Linked DNA regions of Homo sapiens. The protein of the gene in region 2 purifies or fractionates together with the protein of the main gene of each other region. This does not show direct contact. Each region holds a gene or a part of one and is shown on either strand. Other genes may lie near its edges.

The links.
Region 1: the proteins of DNAJB12 (region 2) and YME1L1 purify together in Homo sapiens (affinity purification with mass spectrometry, with the first as the bait; one large-scale study listed by BioGRID). This does not show direct contact.

The regions. Positions count from the first base shown.
Region 1 is NC_000010.11:27,112,908-27,116,612, forward strand, and holds part of YME1L1 (ATP-dependent zinc metalloprotease YME1L1), read right to left. Parts: intron 3,439-3,705; coding exon 3,312-3,438; intron 3,227-3,311; coding exon 3,153-3,226; intron 1,701-3,152; coding exon 1,614-1,700; intron 1-1,613. UniProt on the Homo sapiens protein: ATP-dependent metalloprotease that catalyzes the degradation of folded and unfolded proteins with a suitable degron sequence in the mitochondrial intermembrane region.
Region 2 is NC_000010.11:72,332,124-72,335,220, forward strand, and holds the end of DNAJB12 (dnaJ homolog subfamily B member 12), read right to left. Parts: exon of another isoform or gene 2,495-3,097; coding exon of another isoform or gene 2,465-2,494; 3' UTR 740-2,464; downstream 1-739. UniProt on the Homo sapiens protein: Acts as a co-chaperone with HSPA8/Hsc70; required to promote protein folding and trafficking, prevent aggregation of client proteins, and promote unfolded proteins to endoplasmic reticulum-associated degradation (ERAD) pathway.

The DNA.
Region 1 (3,705 bases), about 45 Mb from region 2:
AGGCTGGTCAGTCTTACCCTTAAAACCTGCCTGGCTGGGTGCGGTGGCTCACACCTGTAATCCCAGCACTTTGGGAGGCCAAGGCAGGTGGATCGTTTGAGCCCAGGAGTTCGACACCAGCCTGGGTAACATAGTGAAATGCTCTCTACAAAAAATAACAAAATTAGCTAGGCATGGCAGCATGCGCTTATAGTCCCAGCTACTCAGGAGGCTGAGGTGGGAGGATCACTTGAGCTTGGGAGACAGAGGTTGCAATGAGCCAAGATCACAGCACTGCACTCCAGCCTGGGTGACAGGGCAAGATGCTGTCTCAAAAAAAAAAAAAAAAAAAAAAAAAAAAAAAAAAAAAAAAAAAAGACCTGCCTTCATGAATGGGTAGCTTCAACATTCAAATGCAATACATAACCAATCTCTCCACTAAGTTCCCACATCTATTTCCAACTAAGATGCCTCAAATTCAACATACATAATACTGAAATTGGGCCGGGCGCAGTGGCTCATGCCTGTAATCCCAGCACTTTGGGAGGCCGAGGTGGGTGGATCGCCTGAGGTCAAGAGTTTGAGATCAGCCTGGCCAACATAGTGAAACCCTGTCTCTACTAAAAATACAAAAAATTAGCCAGGCATGGTGGCACGCGCCTGTAATCCCAGCTACTCAGAAGGCTGAGGCAGGAGAATCACTTGAACCCAGAAGGCGGAAGTTGCAATGAGCCGAGATAGCACTACTGCACTCCAGCCTGGGCAACAAGAGCAGAACTCTGTCTCAAAAAAAAAAAAAAAAGAAAAAACAAAAACAAAAAACTGAAATCATAGAGCTAGGCATAGTGGTGTGTGCCTGTAGCCCCAGCTACTTGGGAGGTTGACTTGAGCCCAGGAGTTCAAGTCCAGCCTGGGCAATATAGCAAGACCCATCCCCTTAAAAAAAAAATGACAAAACCCACAAAAAACCAACAATAAAACACCTACTAAACTTATTTCTTAGGTTGCAGTGAGCCGAGATCATGCCACTACACTCTAGCCTGGGCAGCAGAATGAGACTCCATAAAAAAAAAAAAAAAAATTTATTTGTTGAATACATGTCAAAGACTCAATAAACAATACTCTTCCCATTCTATTACCTCTTACAGTTTTGCAGCTAAAGTACAATTGAATTTTATATACATATAAAATTTTATATATAGATTTTATTTCAACAGCTTATGGGGTACAAGTGGTTTTGGTTACATGGATGAATTGTATAGTGGTAAAGTCTGGGATTTTAGTGTATCCATACCTACATAGTGTACACTGTACCTAATACCTAATATGTAGTTATTTTGTCCCTCACCCTGAGAATTGAATTTTTACAACCATGCAATATAGAACTGTTCTTAGCCCGTGTCCAGGTTCATGAACAGAGAGGTGCCTTAATAACATTTAAATCATTGCTGAAATGCTGCAACTATTATCTTTATTTTTTAATTTTTTCCCCAGACACCATGGTGACTATTATCTTTATTTTATAAAATGATGTTTCTAGTGAACAGAGGGCCTTCAGCTGTTATTTTTTAAGAACCTGACTATTTAAGCACATTGTTCCTAAGAAAATAAATAAGCACAAAAAATATTATTACCCTTAGAAGGATTCTTATTTCTTGTTCGATGGCAGATTGGGTTTCTGGACTTAGTTTCCCTGTATCACTGTAGGTCATAACTCCAAGCTAAAACCAAAAGGAAGAAAGTAATTGAACAGAAAACCCCCAAACACCAACAAATTTGAAAGAGAAAGTACTATCCTATATATAAGGAAACAAATATATGGGGGACAAGAAAGAAGTACAATAGAAAACTGCATTTGAGGCCGGGCACAGTGGCTCACACCTGTAATCCTAGGATTTTGGGAGGCCGAGGCGGGTGGATCACCTGAGGTTAGGAGTTCGAGACCAGCCTGGAAACACGGAGAAACGCCATTTCTTCTAAAAACACAAAAAATAGCTGGGCATAGCGGCACGTGCCTGTAATCACAGCTACTCAGGAGGCTGAGGCAGGAGAATCGCTTGAACCCAGGAGGCGGTGGTTGCAGTAAGCTGACATTGCGCCACTGCACTCCAGCCTAGGTGACAGAGCGAGACTCCGTCTCCAAAAAAAATAAAAATAAAAACTGCATTTGAGGGCAAAGAAATTTCCACATTCTTCTGAAAGTATAAAGACTAACATTTAGCCAGGCATGGTGGCAGGTGACTGTAATCCCAGCTACTTGGGAGGCTGAGGCAGGAGAATCGCTTGAACCCGGGAGGCGGTAGCTGCAGTGAGCCAACATCACGCCACTGCACTACAGCCTGGGCAACAGAGCAAGACTCCGTCTCAAAAACAAAGAAACAAAAAAACACTAATATCAAAATAGTAAAAGTATGAGCAAGACAGAACATTTAAAATCTTTTTTTTTTTTTTTGGAGACAGGGTCTTGCTCTGTCACCCAGGGTAGAGTGCAGTGGACTCACTGTAGCCTCGACCTCCTGGGTTCAGAGAATCCTCCCACCTCAGACTCCCAAGTAGCTGGGATTACAGGCACACACCACCATACCTGGCTAATTTTTGTATTTTTTTAGAGATGGGGTTGTGCCATGTTGCCCAGGCTGGTCCAGAACTCACTCCTGGGCTCAAGCAATACAGTCTCCTCAGCCTCCCAAAGTGCTGGGATTACAGATGTGAGCCACAGTGCCCAGCCTAAAATCATTTTAAGTCTGGTTCTCAGTACTTTCTTGAAAAACCTTGGCAGCTACTTCAAATATAGAAATCCATAATTCACAGAGTATAGTAGTGCTTCAAGGAACAATGACAAGATGAAAATATGAAATAGAGGGAAACAGTAAAGTAACCAAACTTAGAAAGTAGACTCTTTCATGCCACATGGAAAAGCTAAGGAATTCACCTTGCTTTATCACTTAATTAACTCGTGAAGTAATAGTTACTATCTGGGCAGCTCATTCTCAGCAGCTAAGAGAAGGTCCATTTTCTTTATTCAGAGAATAACAATGTTCAGAATAAAGAGCCTCAAATCCATTTGGAGTGAGAGAAAAAGTGAATATTACCAATTTATAATCAGAACCAGCTCTCAAATCAACACTTGACACATAATTTGATACATGAAAAGGATTTAAAAAATCTATTACCTTTTCACTCATTCCAAATTTGGTAACCATCCGCTTTGCTATTTTAGTGGCATTATCAAAATCACTGGAAGCACCTAAAATAAAATAAAAACATACCATTTTAAAACATATCTTTAAGACCACATATAATTTGAACTAAAGCCATTCTTTAAAGCTAACCTGTTGTAATATGGTCGGTTCCAAATATAAGCTCCTCTGCCACTCTTCCTCCCATACTAACATCCATTTGTGCAAGCAGCTGGGCTCTAGTTTCATTCCATCTGTCATTCTCAGGTAACAGGGACACCTAGACAATTAAAAATTAATCAGATAAAAAATAAGCAAAGAGGCTGGGTGCGGTGGCTCACGCCTGAATCCCAGCACTTTGGCAGGCGAGGTGGGTGGATCACCTGAGGTTGGGAGTTCGAGACCAGCCTGACCAACATGGAGAAATCCTGTCTCTACTAAAAATACAAAATTAGGCAGGCATGGTGGTGCATGGCTATAATCCCAACTACTTGGGAGGCTAAGGCAGAAGACTCACTTGAAGCCAGGAGACAGAGGTTGCAGTGAG
Region 2 (3,097 bases):
GGCAGGGGCAGCCAATGAGCTCCCGGGCCACGGTGGCACCACTGGGCAGCCCGCCTGTCTTTGGCTGGTGCAGCCGCGGGAGGGGCCTGGGTCCGCCAGTCAGGGCTGCCGGGCCCTGTCTCTGGGAGGCCTGGGCAGATCTGCCGCTCCATTCACAGGAGCCCGACCCGACTTGGGCTGCCACATTTTAAACTTTTTCAACCTCCTGGAGAGGAGGGCGGGCTGCGGGGGCGGTTTGGGGGAGGATGGTGGGAAGGACGATGGAAACAAACTCGCAACACTTTTCCCAGGATCTGGCTCCTGAGTGGGATCGAGCTCCAGGCTGGGGCCGGGAATTTCGAATGCTCTGCGGGCACATGGCAGGCCTGAGGGTGTGGGGGGGAGGGATTGGGAGAGGGAAAAGCAGAGGGTGATGGTCGTGGCCCAGATGCCCAGCCAGGACTGGCGCTGGGGACCCCAGGGACCCAGACTGCTCAGGTCCTGCAGCCCCCCAGTCACCTGAGCACCCCTCTGCCTGGATGGAGTTAGTTCTGGAACAGCATGTGTGGCTTAAGTGGCTGTTAGCCAGGGCCAGGGGTCGGGGGAAATTCAGGCTCATCATCTAGAGCTCCTTGTGGCACAGGCTGGACAGTGTCAGCAGCAGCAGGGGCTTGTGCCCCCTCCCCCCCACCCCTTAGGCCTCCCTGCTCAATGCAGACCCACCACGGCCAGTCACATAATAAACATATATTAACAGATGTACAATTTGAGAATTCTAATTCAAGAAATACAGCTTCCAGAGGATCCTTTAGGATCTATGTTCTTATTGCACATGGCTCAGCCCGTCTAGGGACATCTACCAAGACCAGATGGTCGGGGCGTGGGGGCAGAGCACCGGGGCCACAGTGGGTAGGCACTCTGGCCACATCAGTTCTTATAATCTCTCTGGGCTGAAGTGGCTGCTTCATTGCAGGGTTGGACCTTGTTTAAAAACCAGATTTGACATTTCCTTACCGAACTTCCTTTCCCAGCAAGAATCCTATTTGTTGGGGGACTTTTAAAAAAAGAGCCGAGAGAAACTCTGGGAGGGTGGTTATCACCTCCTGGCTGGCAGCTTGGGGAAGTAAGGCTTTGGAAGACGGCGGGCGCAATGACACACCCACCGCCACAGGAAAACATGGTCATTCCAGAAGGCCCAGGAGAAACTGTGGGAATAAATAAAACCTCCCTCCTCCCACTGGCGGCAAGTGCTGTTTTAAGCAAAATCCTCATTTCAATGTGAGGGTAAGAAAACTATTCTGGTTCAGGTGTATCCTTTGTCCAAGGTACGAGAGGAGGCCTGGCGGTCACATCAACAGCGAGTGAAGACAGAGGCAGCCACGGGCACTGCCTTTTCTTCAGGAGTCGAGGAGGCTGCCCTGGGGTCCCGGCACCACTGACTGACTCGGAGGAAGAACTTTCTGAAGTCCTTGGTGCATGACTTAGGAAAAACCAGTGGCAATGATGGAGCTGTGCCCTGTGGCACCTATAAGGCAAAGCCCACTGAGGGACTTAGGGGTGGGGAAATGGTTAGGTAGATCCTGGCCCCCTCTGCAGGCCTTCCCTTCTGTGGGCAGGGGGCTGGAGGGCTCCTGGGCACCAGGACAAAGAGCCCACCAGCGCTGCTGAGAGGGGAGAGGTGGTCTCACCCAAGCAGGTCCTTGTGGGGCCTCTACTGTGACTCAATACTGACCTGGCACCTGCCTCCATGGCCTGCTCCTCTCCAGGTTAACCATAATCCTGAGGCCTTCGCGGGTTCACACTATCATGATTACTGCTGCCATCAAAACCAGGCTGGGGTTTCGGGGGGCTGTGAAAAGCTCTGATGCGACTCTCCTTATGCTGTCAGCTACAGCTAATGTCTAGCAAAAACATCACCAGGGTACCTTCCCCAAACAGGCCTCATTTTCTAAAACATGGAAGAAATCAGCTCAACAACTTAACCAAATCCCTGCAGAGTTTAAAAAGTAGACTATATATATATATATCTTCATATATGCCTATTTACATATAAATAGATATATATACATATACACGCATCTATAAATTACATTCTATGGAGAGTTCTCTTTCTTCCTCCTATCTTTGGCCAGGGCCTCTGGCTTCTCCTGAGAGGTGGCTGGTGGTGGCTCCTGTGAGGGAGGAAAGGCAGCTGGGTGCCCCCTCCCCCAGCCCTTCCCACTGATATCTGCTGCGAGTTTTACATTCTACTTTCGTTGCCATGGTTTCTGTATCCTAGGAGAGAGGCGATGCGGAGCCTCCGCCAGCCCTGCGAGGGAGGGAAGCAGCCCCATGGCAGGTTTTCTGTCTGTCCTAAGAGCTTTCTGCATTTACTGGGTGAGAGAGAGGGCAGCTGTGCAGCGTTCGGCCTCCAATTCCATTTTAATTTTGTTTCTTTGTTTGTCTTTCCTCAAATATACAGTCCATCACCTTGGCTCAGTGCATGTCACCAAAAATTCTCCAGGGATTTCATAGTCTGGGGAGGAGAGTGGCAACAGTTAGCTCGGCATTCAGGCGGCACCGGCTCCTCTAGCTTATGCCACACAAGTAGCCCCCCTTGCCACTGCACCGCTGCACCGTGCTGCCCGCTCGACCCCCACCAACCCCACTTGCGGCCTGCCCTCCTGCGGCAGCACAGAGGCAGGCACAAATGGCCTCCAGGCAGAGTCAGCCATGGATCCAGGCCGGGAGGACACAGGCAAAGGAGGGGGTGGGCAGGGCACCCACACAGAGAAGAACCTTCACTGCTTCTGCCCACACTTCTCTGGGCTTGGCTGAAGTGGCCACCTCTGGCAAACGCTGGGAACAGAGCCCAGCGCCCCCATTCGCCGGGCTGCAGAAGGAGGGAGCCTGCTACCAGCAACTCTCATTTCCCCTCCACCCCTCCTGTGCTGAGCGGCTGCGTCTGACCCTGAACTCATGACCTTCTGTTCCCTTCCTCAGACCGCAGGCGAGATGCCTGGGCAAGGCCGGATGCCTGTGGCTTCCAGGCTGCCAGGTGTGACGGCATTCGAGAGAGTGCCTCAGATCCCACCAGAGGGGGGTGGTCAGGGCCCGCGGCCCCTGCCGCCACCAAGAC